Linked DNA regions of Homo sapiens: region 1 is linked to region 2. A link means that fine-mapping ties the variant in region 2 to the expression of a gene that starts in the linked region. Tissue or cell type: left ventricle. Region 2 holds a variant in brackets; the other region holds the start of a gene. All regions are shown on one strand. Distances are from middle to middle.

Region 1 (8,000 bases), 160 kb after region 2:
GTCATCAGGTACAGTTTGAGAAACACTGCTGTACGTATACGTGTGGTCTGGCCTCTGCCTACCTCCCTAACCACATTTCATGGTATTTTGCACCATATTTTCCCTACTGCAGCCACCCCTGCACCATCCCACCACCCAGTTTCTATTATTTTATTACATTGAACCATAAGTTCCTAAAATATACCAATCTCTTTTCTGCCTCAGGGTATTTGATCTTGTTGTTAGCGTGGCCTGGACTCCTCCAGATCACTGCACTTTGTATTATATTATGCAGGTCTCAATATAAAAGTTCTTTCCACAGAGAGGCCTTCATTGACCACCTAATTTGAAAGAGCCCCAGCCTGCAATCCCGGCAGGAGGAGTGGGAACAGGAGTTCATTCATTGCCCTTAGCATTCCTGGGAAGTTTGATAACATAATGTAAGACAGGCAAAAACCAAAAACAGTATTGAGCAAATGTCACTTTCTACCTCCCTATGCCATTGCACAGGTCATAGAATTCTAACTATTGAAATTCTATTCCATTTTCTTCATGACAACTTTTCTGACTCTGACTGAGAAGCAGGGACTCAATTGTACAATTTGCCCCCTATTACTTTGTATTCTCTCAGACCACTTAGCGCATTCTTTCTTATTTTGTATTCATTCCGCAAACATTTGAGTGCCTAATATGATCTAGGCAATACTGTGAACAACATAAGCATGAATTCCTCCAACAGTTCACATTTTAGTAAGAGTGACAGATCTATAAACAAATAATTTCAACCGAATGAGGCAAGTACAATAGGAGAGATGTATACTACATAAAATGGTGACAAAAAGAATGAACAATCAACCTCTTTTTCTTTTTTTCTTGATTTCACAGTGTGGAGGGGAAAGCTCTGAATATCTGCATAGATTTTAAATTTGTATTTATTTATACTTTTTTAGAGACAAGGTCTCGCTATGTTGCTCAGGCTGGCCTTGAACTCTTGGCCTCAAGCAATCCTCTGACCTCAGCCTCTTCAATAGCTGGGACTACACACATATGCCACCGCACCTGACTCGACTCAACCCTCTTTGAGTAGGGAAGGAAGGCATCACAGAAAAGACACCTACACTGGGTCTGGAAGTGAATCCACCTTTGCAAAAATTATAACAGTGAGAGAAATCTAACCTAACTGACTCCATATTGCTTCTAACCTCACAAAGCTAACTGCCCTTGCTCATACCTGGGCATAGGCAAGCTAACTATGGGAGAAATTTATAGTTTAACTTTGAAGCAAGGATGGTAATAGTCCCTTCCAAAACTGACCCCCTCTAGGGACTAAAACAGCCTTGTAAGACTAATAGAAGGCCGCAAGGTTAGGACTATGGGAGGGACCTAAAATCTGCTAAAATATAGGCATAGGTAAGCAATAACCAGCTACTGTTCCTTGCTTTTCTATAATTTCTTACTATTCAGAAGTCATGTAGCCAGAGGTCACAAGATTTGTAACTTCACCAATTGCTCCTTTAGATAACATCACTATTGTAAAACCTAAGATTGGTCTTGAGATATTTTCCAGGCTTCTGCATTCTGGCAAACCTCCTGATGCCACCCAGATACATGCCTCATACCAAGAAACTGACTCTACTAGTCCTATGACTCTCACCTAGACAACTGACTCAGCACAGGAAGACAGTTTGGAAACACCTATAAATTCATCCCCAACCAATCAGCAGCGCCCATTCCCTACCAACCTGCCCACAAAATTATCCTTGAAAACCACAACTTCCAAGCTGTCAGGGAGGCGGATTTTAGAAATATTTCCCATCCTTCCACTCAACTGCCTTGCCTCCATTAAACTCTTTCTCTGCTGCAACTCCTGCATTCTCAATGTTTGGCCTTTCTGGGAAGTGGGCAAGAAGAACACGTTGGCCTGTAATAGGAGAATAAATAAGTTTGGCAAGCAACAAGAGGGTGCAAGTATTCTGTGTAGAAGGAATTGCAAGTGCAAAGTAGAAAGAGGAGGCATACTACCAGTTTGAAGTTGCTTGGTATGTTCAATGAAAAGCAAGTAGCTAAAAGGCAAGAGAATTTTTTTTTTTTAAGTATGGAAAGGGAAAGGCAAAAGCTAGACAGAAAAGTGCTTGTTCATGGAGGAACTTGTGTGCCATTCTAGACATTTTACTGTAGGAAATAGGGAATCTAGAGTTTTAAGGAGGTGAGTAAATCAACAGGTTGGGTTTTTAAAAATTCCTTCTTGTGGCAGAGAAAATAATGGATTGGAGAATTTCCAGACCAGACTGTAAAAGTCACTATTAAAATAATCACGAAATGAGGAGATGACAAACTAAAATTTGATCTAGTGAACAACTGAATATGGGAGAAATAGAAGAGGGAGGAATGTAGGATAACTCTGATTTCTAGTTTAGGTTATAATATAGTAGTAGCATTATTTAACTTGGTGAAAATAGGAGAAACCAGGAGGAAAGATAGCAAGTTCAGTTTTGGTCATATTAAGTTTGAAGGACATTTGAGACAGATGTGTCCGGGAAGCAACTGAGTTAGGCATTAGTAGATCTGAGAGGAAAATTGAAATTTAGAAGCAAAATCAAAGGTGTTAGTAGAATCCATGTGAGTGGACAAAATCACCCAAGGAAAATGTCTAGACTAAGAAATGAAAGTAATCAAGGAGTTAATTCCAAAGAATGACATTCAAAAACCAGGCACAGCCAGTAAAAGGAATTAATGACTATGAACCTCAGTTGTCACAAAGAGACTAAGTAATGTAAATTTTGAGAAGTAATTACTGTATTTGGTATTTAAAAGGCCATTAGAAACTTAAGCAAGAACAACTTTCTTGAAGCCATTAAAGAAGCCAGACAGAAGACTTTTGTCTGTTTGATATAAGTAAAAATAATATCCTTTCAAGAAGTTTACTGATAGATAGGAGGACTAGGAAATAACTGGATAAACACAGGATGGAGGACATGGTTTTGCTTTATTTAATTTTCATAAGATGTGTGACTTGAGCACTGAAGAGAAGAAACTGGAGAGGAAAAGGCTGAACGCACAGGAAAGAAAAAAACAACTGGAAGCGAAATGTAACAGATGGAAGCAAATGAGATCAAGAGCAAAGATGGATGGATTATCCTTTAATATCCCTTTCTCTACACTAGAAATACAAGACTAAAGGCTCGGCAAAAATATAGAGCAATGTGTAGGTTGGGGGCATGAGGTTGAAGAAATGGCCTGTTATACTCCATCATGTTTAGAAAGGAGAAATGAAGAGGGCAAAAGACAGGGTTTGTAAAGGGAAGGTTTGAAAATGTCTTCACAGAGAATGGGTCAGGGGAAAACTGGGGTAACCAAAAGGATTGCTGAGTAGTATGAAGAAACAAGGGGTGGTGGGTGAGGGCTCTGTTTCTAAATTCATAGCTATAACTATCTAAAGATCTTTCTATCCTCCAGTCCGTTATCCATAAGTGCTTAAAAGATATGGTAGTTAAGTGAATTAACTAGAACCCTCTCAAACATAGGGGTGAATTAAAATAACCTATAGGCTTATTTAAAATGCAAATACCGAGCTCCATTCCTTTCATTCAGAATTTCCAGGGGTGAAGCCCAAACAGTGAATTCCAGAAGCTCTCCAAGCAATCCCAGGAGAAATTTCTGTTTAAAAAAAAAAGAAGAAGAAAGAAAAGAAAAGAGAAAAGAAAAGCAAGCACAGACCTAGAAGGTAACCAACTGGATAGAAGAGCGCTGATCCAACATACACCTGTTAATGGCCCTCGTGGGGGCGTGGGGCAGTGCTCTGCCACTCAGAAAAGCAAAAAGACTCCAAGATCTAGGGAGATTCAGATCAGTGTTGAGACAGTCACATACACACCACCCCATACTCTTAATAAAGCGCGTTAATGTGAATCTGTGAACATGAAAAATGCCATGATGAACAATGCAAACACATAATGTTTGTTCAAAACAGGTTATTAGACTCGATGCCTTACCCTAAATTTTCTGTTTCATTACTCTAGAGACTTAGTAACATTAGTGGAATTCAGGGTGCTGTAAGAAATACGGAGAGCGAGGAGACTGCAGGAACAGCCCGTGGGAAGGGGGAAAGAGATAACGGGGAGAAGGTCGGGAGGACCGGACAACTTTAAGTGCCCATCCGCCCGAAGACTTGGAAAGCTAAGTAAGTAGGACCCCAGAGCCGTTCTTCTGGCATCCCCTGGCACTCACCATTGTCTCAGGATCTCAGCACTAGAAAATAGGTATCGTTGAGACAGGAAGACACCACCACCACCACCATCATACGGTTACTCAGGCAACAAAGCCCCGCCCACTGTCGCACGAGGCGTGGGACGCCACCGCCCCACCTCTTCGTCCTTAGTGGCTGGGAGTAATCTCAGCTGCGTTCATCCAATCGACAGACCCGCCCCTCCACGCTGTCGCCTGGGGCTACGAGACGCCATTATTCTGTTTCCGGCAGTTTTACTTCCGTTTGTTTAACAGCTGGCCCGGAAGTTTAAGTGAATATGCGGCTTGGGCTCCAAAAGTTGCTGTACGGTATTTTATTTTAAAGTAGAAATCTGTCCGCTTTTCACTTACGGAGGCCTTACAGTGTGTGTTCTGTGTTACTTGAGTTTATACGCACTGCAGAATTTGTTTACCCTGCTCTTTTGGAAACGTATTCCGGAAGCGAAACCCTGAGTAATCGGAAGTGGTTAGGAGTGAGAGAGCTGCTGGATATGCGGAGGGACTGGGCGGGTCGGCTTCCGAATGGAAGAGGTCTGTGAGAAGTTAACCTGGTGATACCGATCCGAAGAGCCTATCAAGTGAAGCCCCCTGAAATACGGAGAATAAGAATCTTAGAGGTAAATCCGAGGACAAGCAGGTATAACTAAGGATGTTGGAAAGGGACGGAGGTCTGGCTGGAGCTCGGTGGCCAGTAGCTTTGGATTTAGGGAAAGATTGTTCCGGGAAGACTTTTTCAGACAGGGATGAAACTTAGGTTTCGACTTCCCCGGACAGCAAAGTTGACAGGCTTGTCGCTTCCCGGCCTATCGCTTTCATACCTGCTCACTCCCCCTACTTACTTCTTCACCCCCTCCGCTTCATTTGGCATTTGCCAGCAGGCACTCGCTGTGCCTGTACGTTTCGCAGAGCAGCTATCAAGGGCAGTTTCAGGGATCGTTACTCTTACGAAGGGTTTTTTGGATACCTCTTTTCGGAGCAGTAGAGTGTAAGTGTAGAAAAGTTTGTGACTGTTAAGAAAGTTAGTCGTCGGGTTCACTAATTGAACTGAGTTGTATCTAGTACTGAGAACGATCTTTTTTTGTAGTGAAACCAGTTGTCATCTAGTGTACAGTTTGTCATATTTATATCATTGCAGTAGCATCACCTTCTTATATGTTCTCTGGTAAATCTGAGTCTGTACTGTAAGACAATGTATACATTTCTGAAAGCATGGGCTCGATATGTTTCTCTTTTTACTTTTGGAGCTACACTATTTTAATTTTAACTTTTTATTACCAAAAAAGTATAAATTATGTTATCTTGAGTAATATTTTTTGTCGTTTGTTAAACATCTAAACAGAAGCTCCTTTTTGATATGTGTGTGTGTGTATACAAATTGTGTCGGTATGTCTCCTAAGAAAGTAATTACTTTAAAATTCCTCTTGTCATATGGATGACAAAACCACCACAGTAACTTCATTCCCTTTGCTTGGCTAAAATTCAGGACATACTTCTGACAATTTAGAGTGTATTGGTGAGGATGGTGAAACGGAGTATTTAGAAGTAAACCACCCCTAATTTTTTTTTTTGAGACTTTTAGTAGACATAACAATGCCTTCTGTGAGAATGGGATATAAGGGACATTTCTCTTTCTAAATGCATGCGTACTAAATACAGAAGCAATTAAAATATCATAACTTTTAAATTGGAGGTACTCTATGTGTTTATATGATATTTTTAAAATTATTTCATATGCATACATTTCTAGGTTGTTCAGCAGAAGTCTTGGAGTGCATTTTCAGTGGTTAAGGTGAAAAAATGACTACTAAAAATTTAGAAACCAAAGGTAAGTGGCTTTTTTATAATTGTTTTTAAAACATGACATTTATGACGATGTGAAGGAACGTTTGAGCCAGATAACTAGATCTCATGGACCCCCTTGGGAATCATTTGTTATTTCAGATCCCTTTATGTTTATTTTTTAGTGCAGTGTTTATATTTCAGTACTTTAGATGTACAAGTGAAATTTAACATCATTAGTTAGAATTTATTAGGTGACTACTCTTAAACATTTAATGTTAATGCAAAGTTTTTAACAGCTATATTCCCTATACACTAGAAGATTACGATTTAAATAAGAATACACATTTTAAAGATTTAAGTAGATAGACAAAGCAACTAGGGTGTATCAAAGATCTCTTTCATGTTGTATTAGTTTGCTGGGGTTGCTGTAACAAAGTACCACAAACTGCATGGCTTGAACAACAAAATGTATTCTCTCAGTTCTGGAGGCTAGAAGTCCAAGATGAAAATGTCAACAAGGCTGTGCTCCTTCGGAAGGCATTAGAGACACTCTCCTAGCTTCCAGTGGCTTGCTGGCAGTCTTTGGTGCTCCTTGTCTTGTAGACGTACCACCCTTATCTCCGCCTTCATATTCACATGGCATTCTCCCTATGTGCATGTTTCTGTGTCTAAATTTACCCTTTTTATAAAGACAGCAGTCATATTGAAAAAAGGAACCCAGTCTACTCCTGTATGATTTCATCTTAACTAATTACATCTGCAGTGATCCTGTTTCCAAATGAAGTCTCATTCTGAGGTAGTGGGGGGTTAGTACTTCAACAAATAAAGATTTGGGGGACACAATTCAACCCCTAAATTGCTAAATACAGTAGTCACTTTTTAGTCCTAGCTGATTTGTCCTCTCTAATATTTAATACTGTTGACCATTCCCTGCCTTTTGAGATACGTTCTTTTGATGACTTCCATGACATCACTTTTATTTTCAGTCTACTCTGTAGCCTTTCACTGTCCAATGCGGTAATTACATGTGGCTATTTGAATTTAAATTAATATTTTTTAAAAATTAAAAATTCAGTTTCTCAATGACGCTTGCCAAACTTCAAGTGGTCGGTAGGCAAATATGGCGAGTAGCTATTTCAATCATTGAAGAAAATTCTGTTGGACAGCCCTGCTGTAGCTGTATCTTCTCTCTTTCTTTTTCAGCCTCTTCTCCTTCTTATTTATCTTTTAAATATCAACACTTTCCACCACTGTTTCTTTTCTACTCTCATGACTTCAGTAATTATCTATATAAATGACTTCCAAATCTATCTATATCCCTAATCTCCTTCTTTATGATTCATACCCTTATAGACTACTGCCTACTGGCCATCTTCACATAGCTGTAGGCAACAATTTTAACATGTCCCATAGTGAACTTCTCCTGACCCAGCTTATTCTTTGGATGGGTTGAGTTCTGCATGCTAGAACCATCAGTTAAAGATGGAAAACTGTTTTCTAGATGCCAATTTTTCAGCAAACTGACCTCCAGCCACAAACCCTCTCTAAAAGCAGGTTGAAATAAGTTTAAGAAACAAGGAAGAAAGATCATGCTAATAAATATTTAATTGAATTTAATTCAGCTTTGCAACAGCATTTCATAAGTCACCAGAAGGCTTTTATACCATTAGATAAGCAAGTCAGAGACTGTAATGAAAGTAATAAACTGGGGATTAATGGGAAATAAGAGCAGTTAAATAATTAATGTGAAAGCAACCAACATGGTGCTTGTCAAAAAGCAAAAACTAAATACAATATTATGATTAGTCATTAGAAGTACTGGCAAGTTCTCTGTGAAATTAAATTACTTTTTAATATTTATTATTACTTGTTTTTAATGAGGATTAGAGTTATAAGGCACTTTAACAAACATTATTTTGTGTGATCTTAATTATCCAGTAAGGAAAATAATTCTATTAGCCATATTTCTATTTAATCTGTCATCTGATGTTAGT
Region 2 (8,268 bases):
TTAAGAGTGCAGAGTATCATTAAATAGTGATAATTATAATAACCTCTATTACAAGAGTGACAATAATGTTAGCTAACACTTATTAAGTATTCACTATGTTCTAGAAAGTTTACATAAATTATCTCACTTATTCTTCACAATAATAATTCCATGAGGTAGATATCATTATTATTACAATTTTACAAATGAAGAAACTAAAGTTTTCAAAGGATACCACACTTGCCAAGAGCAAAGCTACTGAGTGGTGGAGGTAGGATTTGAACTTAGATAGATAACAGAACCCAGGGTCTTTTTTATTATTATTATTATTATTATTATTATTATTATTATTATTATTTTTAAATTGAGATGGAGCCTCACTATGTTGCCCAAGCTGGTCTCAAACTCCTGGGCTCAAGTGATCCTCCCGCCTCAGCCTCCCAAGTAGCTGAGTCTAAAGTGTATTTCACCATGCCCAACAGCACCCAGGGTCTTAACCACTTTGCTATACTTGTTGGTTCCTATTGTCTACAAAAATAAAAATCATGTACCACATTTCCCAGAGCTGCAACTTTCAAAACTGCACATTATAACTCTAAGCCATATAAAGGTAAAAGGAAAAGGTATAATTCACCAAAAGTACTAAAAGTTTACTCAGCCAAAATTCAGAATTTTAGAGTTGGAAGGAGAAGCATAAATCATTTAGTTTGATGACAACTTAGTGCAAATGATAAAACTGAAAGACTTTGGCCTAACTCTTCAGGTTTTAGGAAATAAAGGAAATTCAATGATGATGAGTTTTCCACAGGTATGACTGATATAGAACTTATTAATTCATTATTAATTCATTCACCTATTCATTAGTTATTTTTCATCTCAGTCAACAAATATATACTGAAAGTCAACTACACACCAAGCACCCTGCTAGGTTACAAACTCCAGAAAGTAAAAAATGAGTATGACGGTCCCATTCTTCAAGGGGCTTATGGTCTGGACTGGTGGGGGTGGGGGAAAAGGTGTAAAATAAGAATTCTTATTTTATATATCACTATATAACGTGATAAGCAATACTCAATAAACATGGCAGGGAGTTATTCTGTTGGAAACATCCGGGAGGGCTTTACCAAGAATATCATTAAATTAAGAGATAAGCAATTATTTCCAAGAAGATATCTTCCCTCCAGGAAGAGGGTAGAGGAATTTAGCCTTGAGTGGTTGGAAATTCAAGTCATTTAGAATTGCTTGGAGCATAGCCAGTGAGGGTAAGAGACTGTGTTAAGCACATCTTTTTATTCTGATGTTTTAACATCTGGGGCCTTATTGACCCTGAGGAGACTGTCCCTCCCAAGGCCAGCCATCTTCTAGAGATAATAAAGGGCTCCCCTGTGAGATTGCCTTTCATATGCAAACCAACCAGGTCAGACCCCATCCACTCCAACCTCCTCTATCAGGCTCTTACAATCTGGATCAATATTCCCCTGCCCTAATTTCCTCAGGGACAGGGTCAGACAACTTAGAACAGCCCTGTACACCCTACAGTCCACTGAAATTATTCAAACTAGCCAATCCTGAACTTGTTAGCCCTTCCTCACCCATTCCTTCCCAAGGAAATCACAATAGAAGCTCTTGCCCATATTTCCCCCTATTCTTCTGTTTCCTGACCCACCCTCATGTTTCCCTGTGTGGCCCTGCATGTGCAGTGTGCACTGTCCTCTTGGGGATTGTAGCTATCTTTTCAATGGCAATCATCTGATGCATTGGCCTCACCATCCCTGAATGATAATAAAACTGACATTATAAACAAAGATTCAAGCCTGGGTGCCATGGCTCACATCTGTAATCCCAGCACTTTGGAAGGCTGAGACAGGAGGATCCCTTGAACTCAGGAGTTTGAGACCAGCCTGGGCAACATAGAGAGACCCTATCGCTACAAAAATTTAAAACATGGGCCAGGTGTGGCGGCACGCACTTGTAGTCCCAGCTACTTGGCAGGCTGAGGCAGGAGGATCACTTGAGTCTAGGAGGTAGAGGCTGTAGCAAGCTATGATAATATCACTGCACTCCAGCCTGGGTGACAGAGCGAGACTGTCTCAATAAATAAATAAATAAATAAAACAAAGATTCAGTAAATTCTGCTACATAGACAGAAAGGGGCAAGACCATGTAAAGTGTTGTCTGAGGAGTTTTAACTACTCAGGAGACATTGGGAGCCACAGAACAGTGTTAAGCAGGGGCATAATATGACTAGATTTACATTTTAAAAAGATTACTCAGGCAGCAGTGTGGTTACAGAATTGCAGTGAAGTAATTCTGAAGGTATGGAGACTAATTAGGAGGTTATGGTATAAAACAGTCGGGAAGTGATGAAAATCTCAATTAAGGTAGGGGAACTGGAAATGGACAGAAAGGAATATTTACGAGATGGTGAGAAGGTATCTTGAAGGACTTGATTGACTATAATGGGTTGGGGAAAGGCAAAAGCAAAGACACACTTCAAGGTTTCTGGCTTAGCTGACTGTGGCTGGTAATGAATTTATGGAGATAAGAAAAGAAGCACAGAAGCAAGTTTGCAAGGAAGGAGAATGGGATCTGCTTGCCTGTAGGATTGTTCTTGTAGAGATACTAATAGCCAGTTAGAAACATGGATCTGGTGCTCAGGAGGTGTTCTTAGACTGGAAACAAGATTTGAGAGTTACCAGCCTACTGGTGGTGGTTAAGGTCATAAAAGTGGATAGAATTATCAAAGGAAGACATGCAGAAAAATATCAAAGTTCAGGTTGAAAACAGAATTCCAAGAAACACCACAACTTAAAAGGCAGGTAGGGAAATGGTGTTTGCAAAAGAAAATGGATGTGGTAAGATAATCTGGGGAGTCTGGCAGCAGCAGCAGCAACAATGGCATAATCATCACCATCATCACCAGATGGCTAATATTTCTTCAGCATTACTATGTTTCCCACATTATGTCATGTGTTTTACATGTATAGTTCATTTGCTGCACATAGTAACTGATAGTTTGGATATTTGTCCCTGCCCAAATCTCATATTGAATTGTAATCTCCAGTGCTGGAGGTGAGGTCTGGTAGGAGGTGTTTGAATCATGGGGGCAGATCCCTCATGAATGGCTTGGGCCATCCCTTTGGTGATAAGTGAGCTCTCACT[C/CT]TGAGTTCAAAGGCGATCTGGTGGTTTAACAGTGTATGGCACCCCCCTCCCCACCACCAACTCCTTTGCTTGCTCCTGCTTTTGCCATGTGACATGCCTGCTCTTGCTTTGCCTTTTGACATAACAGTAAGCTTCCTGATGCCTCCCTATAAAACCATGAGCCAATTAAATCTCTTATTTATAAATTACCCAGTCTCACGTATTTCTTTATAGTAATGTAAGAACAGCCTAACACAGTAACTCAGTGAGGTTTAAGAGATGATGACATAGGCCTACAGAAGTTAAGTAAGGCCTATAAAATTGTTCTCCTTTGCAATCTCTCTAAAGCATGGCTTCTTAAACTGCTATAATGTGTCCATTGAAGAATGATGAGGTTAATAACTTTGAAAAGGAGAGCTTATTTCTCATTAAGGGTTGTAGTCTGAAGGGTGGCCATACCAACAGGCTAGGAAGCATAATCTCTGGCCAGAAGCCAGAAACATGCAATTGGAGGGAGGGGTAAAGGGAACAGAAATTTATGCTGAGCAGTTTGGCTAAGTATAAATATTCAATGGGTTATAGGAGGAGCTATGAATATTCATGAAGTAATGGCATGGGTATGCACAGTAGGCCAATGTGTATGAAACATGTGTCCCATTGAGAGAAGAGAAAGGAAGAAGCTGGTCAGGCAGGCGGGCAGGGAGGGTGGGTCCTCAGTTGAATCCTTTCAAACAAAAGAACAGCCTGCAGGCACAGGTAAGGGAACTGCACAGGATGGCTTGCCTAAGACATGCCCACAGCCCCACTGATAAGAAAGGCTACACAAGTGACTTGCCCAGTCAGGCTTGCAATGGAAAATTCCATCCCCTGACACATGTGCAGTAAGGGGAACAAAGAAATATGGAGTAAGTCAAGCTAAAGCCTGTATGCACATTAGGAGGATGAGCTGGAGCTACCAGAAATTCATGCCTTATGCAAATGAGACACCCAGCCCTCAATGTTTTCTTATAAAAGTCTTTGTATTCAACTGTACAAATGGTAACCCTCTTCTGGGCCCTCTCTCCCTGTCAGAGAGCTTTCTTCTTGTGCTTATTAAACTTTCACTCCAACCTCACTCTTTGTGTCCACGCTCCTTAATTCTCTTGATTGTGAGACAAAGAATTCTGGGTGATACCTCACAATGAGAGACTGCTACACTGTGGTGCACTGGTGAGACTGCAACACCATGTTCACTCTAGGGTGAAGATTTAACATTTGAATGTATTACAATTAGGCCTTATAAATCAAAAGGTAAAGCAGAGGACATAAAAGCCCTCTGTGCTCAGTCTCCGTAGAATGGCCAGAACCATTCTGTGGTTGGTGGTCTCTAATCAGGAAGGAATGCTGGTGGGTTGCCCTGTCAAAACTACAGAAGGGAGGGCAGCAATGGTTTATATGGTTGATATCAGCAGTGGAGCAAGTTTTTCAAAATGGCTAGTTTCTCTTTAACCCTTAGGGAAGGCTAATGATGGTTAGCAAAGGAGTAGGTATAATGAGATGTGTCTGATCCCGCATCCCCTCATGGCTGGGAACTCGTTTATTTTCGTGTTTTGTTTTTGAGACAGGGTCTTGCTCTGTCAACCAGGCTGGAGTGCAGTAGTTTGATCAAAGCTCAGTGCAGCCTTGACCTCCTGGACTCAAGTGATCTTCCTTCCTCAGTCTCCCAAGTAGCTGGGACTACAGGTATGCACCACCATGCCTGGTTAATTTTTCAGTTTTTGAAAAGACAAGATCTCACAATGTTGCCCAGTTTTGTCTTGAACTCCTGGCTTCAAGCAGTCCTCCCACCTTAGCATCCCAAAGTGCTGGGATTGCAGGAGTGAGTCACCACACCAGGCCAGGGAATTTAGCTTTTAAGGTTTCTCTGGGGTCCCCTTGTCCAAGTGAGGGATCTGTTCAGTCAGTAGGGAGCTTGGGATTTTATTTTTATTTCTCAAATGCCTCAGTACTGGCTGCCTCTCCTCCTAAACTTTCACTCAATCCATACTAGATATTGTCACATAACTCTTACTTTGATCACATGACAGTGCTACTTTGTCAGTAACCTTCAATGGTTTTTCATGTTTATTAAGTAACAAAATTCCCAGCCTTGGACTCATTATGATGCTAATATCTCTCTAGCTTTATTGTCTACTATTATACTATATCCAATGCTTCAAACTAAATTACTCAGCCTTGCAATCTCAATGCCTATGTGACATAATCTCTCATTTTAAAAGTACAGATTCCCATTTCAGATTATAGAAATTCTAAGTATTCCACAGGGTTCACCTTCTTTCAGATGTCGCACTCTCTCGGAAACCTTACGCACTTACTCCAGAGATGTAAGCACTTTCCTTGAAAATCTTATTCACAACCTGTATCTCTCTTAAAGCATTTATCTTACTGTCAGATTTATTTTGCCATTGTCTGTAAACTTATCTTTTCTTACAACAGTTTGCAAGCAAAATCTAGTAATGCCTTGACTACCACTACATTTCAATAAATAATTATTGACTCAATTTTATTCAATTTTGAACTCTTATCAAAGCTCTCAAATTTGCTATCTGTGTTCTTTGGGCAAGCTTAGTATCTTTACAGATGGTGTAATTCCATTGGAAGTTTCTTTTCTTTCTTGAAGGTCATAAAACAAGGATGGCCCAACATCTCATACTGAAAACAGTTTTCCATCTAATTTTTTGATCAACTATAAGATTATTCTATAAGACCAAAGCAGGAAGCCTATAAATATATATTTACTATTGTCACACTAATAATTAGTCTAGCAAAATAGTATGCTTATGTTATTGTTCTTTAGGATAAACTGACAATGTAATGTTGCAGTTTACTTAAAAAACAATACTTACTATTATAACCACACTTTTAGTTTTTTCATTTACTAATTCACTACTTTCTATAATCAGAGTCAGTGTCAATTGTTTTCCCATGATCTTATGTAATTTGAGCTTTAGCACCATCATCACATATATGTATGAAAAGAATAAGGTTCCAGATCTAAAGGCAACATCTGGTGCTTCCTTTCCTCAATTACTCTCCTAAAATCAAGACATAGGAACAAGGTTGCCCAAAACTCATTCAAGTCTTCCCATCTTGCCCATTATGTGTCAAATAGTTGTGTGGTACCCTCACAGCATGTATCCTAGGCTCTGAGAAAAGTAAGAAAAATCCATATTTATGGAATATTCTAAGAAGTTTGCCCATATTAGCTGATATAATCCTCACAACCGGCTTATTCTTTTTCCGTTTTATTGGTGAAGAAACAGATTATATTTTACAGATGAAGAATCTCAGGCGGCCTGGCTCTAGAGCCCACTGCAAAGCACCACATGTCAAGTACTGGCATTCATTATTCATTCTTCCTGCTTCTGCTCCGGCCCCACTTTGTCTATTCACCACATGGAAGCCAGCATTATTGTGTTAAAACATGTTAGGTTATGTTGGTCCTCTGCTCAAACTCTGCAATGGTCCCCTTCTTACTCAGAGTAAAAGCTAAAGTATTTTCAGCAGCTTTCCACGCTCTATGTGATCTTCTTTCCCATCCTGTATCTCTTTGACCTCACCTCACACATTCACTCCACTCTGGCCACACTGTCCTCCTGACTTCTTCCAATATACTAAGCATACTCCAGCTTTGGCACTTGCTGTTCCTCCAGCCTGGATTGCTAGGTGACTGTCACCCTCATCTCCTTCAAGTCTGTATCCAATGTTAACTTTTAAATGCAGCCTTCTCTGTCCATTCTACTTAAAAACTATAAATCCCTCCCTTTTCTGGAAAACCCTATTTCCCTCCCCTGCTTTATTTTCCCCTACACACTTACCATCATATTATATATTTTACTTATTTATTCCGCTCCTGATCTGTTTCCCCCCAACTAGAACGTCCTCTGTGAAGATAGATTTTATTGTTTGTTCTTTTGCCACTGTATTTCTACTGTATCTAGAATAGTACTTAGTATGTAGTAAGTCCCCAGAAAATATTTGATGAATTAACTAATTAATTAATTCAAATATCTATATGGAAGTTGGAGCTGATGTTGAGAGACTGAAAAAGAATGGATGGCTACAAGTCTTACAAGGAGGAATACCTCAGAGGCCTGGAACACGGAGGGTAGGGAGGATTAATACTAGGACAAGGAATAAAAAGGAAGAAGCTGTCTTGGGTTAATGCTTGGTCTTCAACTCCAGGGATTCTTATTTGACCTTTGTGTATCTTCCTTTAGGACTAGGGTTCATAATTTTGTCTTATGCAAAGACAAAGTTAAGAACCTCTTTTGGCAGCCTGATGGAGCCTATGAACCCTTCTCAAAGCAATGTTTTTAAATGCATAAAATACATAGAATTGCAGGAAATTAATTACTCTAAAATAAAATTATCAGAATATTTTATATTTTGTGATATAATGTACATATTTATTAAAATGTAGCAGCTGATTTAATAACTCTTATAATTTTAAAATAGCAATGACTGTAAATGATGTTTTAAGATATGTACAATTGTAATGCAATGTGAAAATGTTTGCAATTTCTGGTGGTTGCTAAGTTAACTACTATATTAACACATAGCTATAACAGTGATTAGTTGTTTATATTTATGGAATTCTAATATTCAGTCAGATATTAGTGAAAATAAACACGATTCTTTTTTTCTCATCCAAGTTCACAGACCCCTTGTCTTAGTCCGTTTGCATTGCTATAAAGAAACATCTGAGGATAGGTAATTTATAAGGAAAAGAGGTTTATTTGGCTCATGGTTCTGCAGGCTATACCAGAAGCATGGTACCAGCATCTGCTTCTGATGAGGGCCTCAGGCTGTTTCTACTCATGGTGGAAGGTGAAGGGGAAGTGGCATGCAGAGATCACAGGGTAAGGGTGGAAGCAAGAGGAAGAAGGGAACGATGCCAGGCTCTTTTTAACAAACAGTTCTCAAGGAAACTAACACAGTGAGAACTCAGTCATTACCCTGAGGATGCCACCAAGCCATTCATGAGGGATCTGCCCCCAGGACCCAAATGCCTCCCACTAGGCCCTACCTCCAATGCTGAGAATCACATTTCAATATGAGATTTGGGGGAGTCAAGCAAACCAAACTAGAGCACCCCTGAATTCTATT

Direction of the effects. Alleles are on the strand shown, and positions count from the first base shown. SD is a standard deviation of normalised expression in the study named.
For the expression in left ventricle of the gene that starts at base 4,296 in region 1, C is the low allele of the variant in region 2 and CT is the other (small effect, 0.30 SD a copy in GTEx).

The links. PIP is the estimated chance that this variant, and not a neighbour inherited with it, causes the effect.
Region 1: it holds the start of NME7, and the variant in region 2 is fine-mapped to the expression of NME7 in left ventricle (GTEx, PIP 0.91).

What each region holds. Positions count from the first base shown.
Region 1 is chr1:169,363,502-169,371,501 of GRCh38, forward strand. NME7 (NME/NM23 family member 7) reads right to left here and starts at 4,296. Exons shown (of 12, transcript NM_013330.5): 1 at 4,207-4,296. The coding sequence starts at 4,209. BLZF1 (basic leucine zipper nuclear factor 1) reads left to right here and starts at 4,694. Exons shown (of 7, transcript NM_001320973.2): 1 at 4,694-4,841; 2 at 5,972-6,049. The coding sequence starts at 6,022. RefSeq lists enhancers at 4,133-5,332, 4,272-4,773, 4,436-4,515, 4,774-5,273.
Region 2 is chr1:169,199,158-169,207,425 of GRCh38, forward strand. The region is part of intron 10 of NME7 (NME/NM23 family member 7); the gene reads right to left. Among named protein-coding and RNA genes, the nearest start is that of ATP1B1, 97 kb to the left of the region's middle. The variant C/CT (reference allele first, on the strand shown) is at 3,142.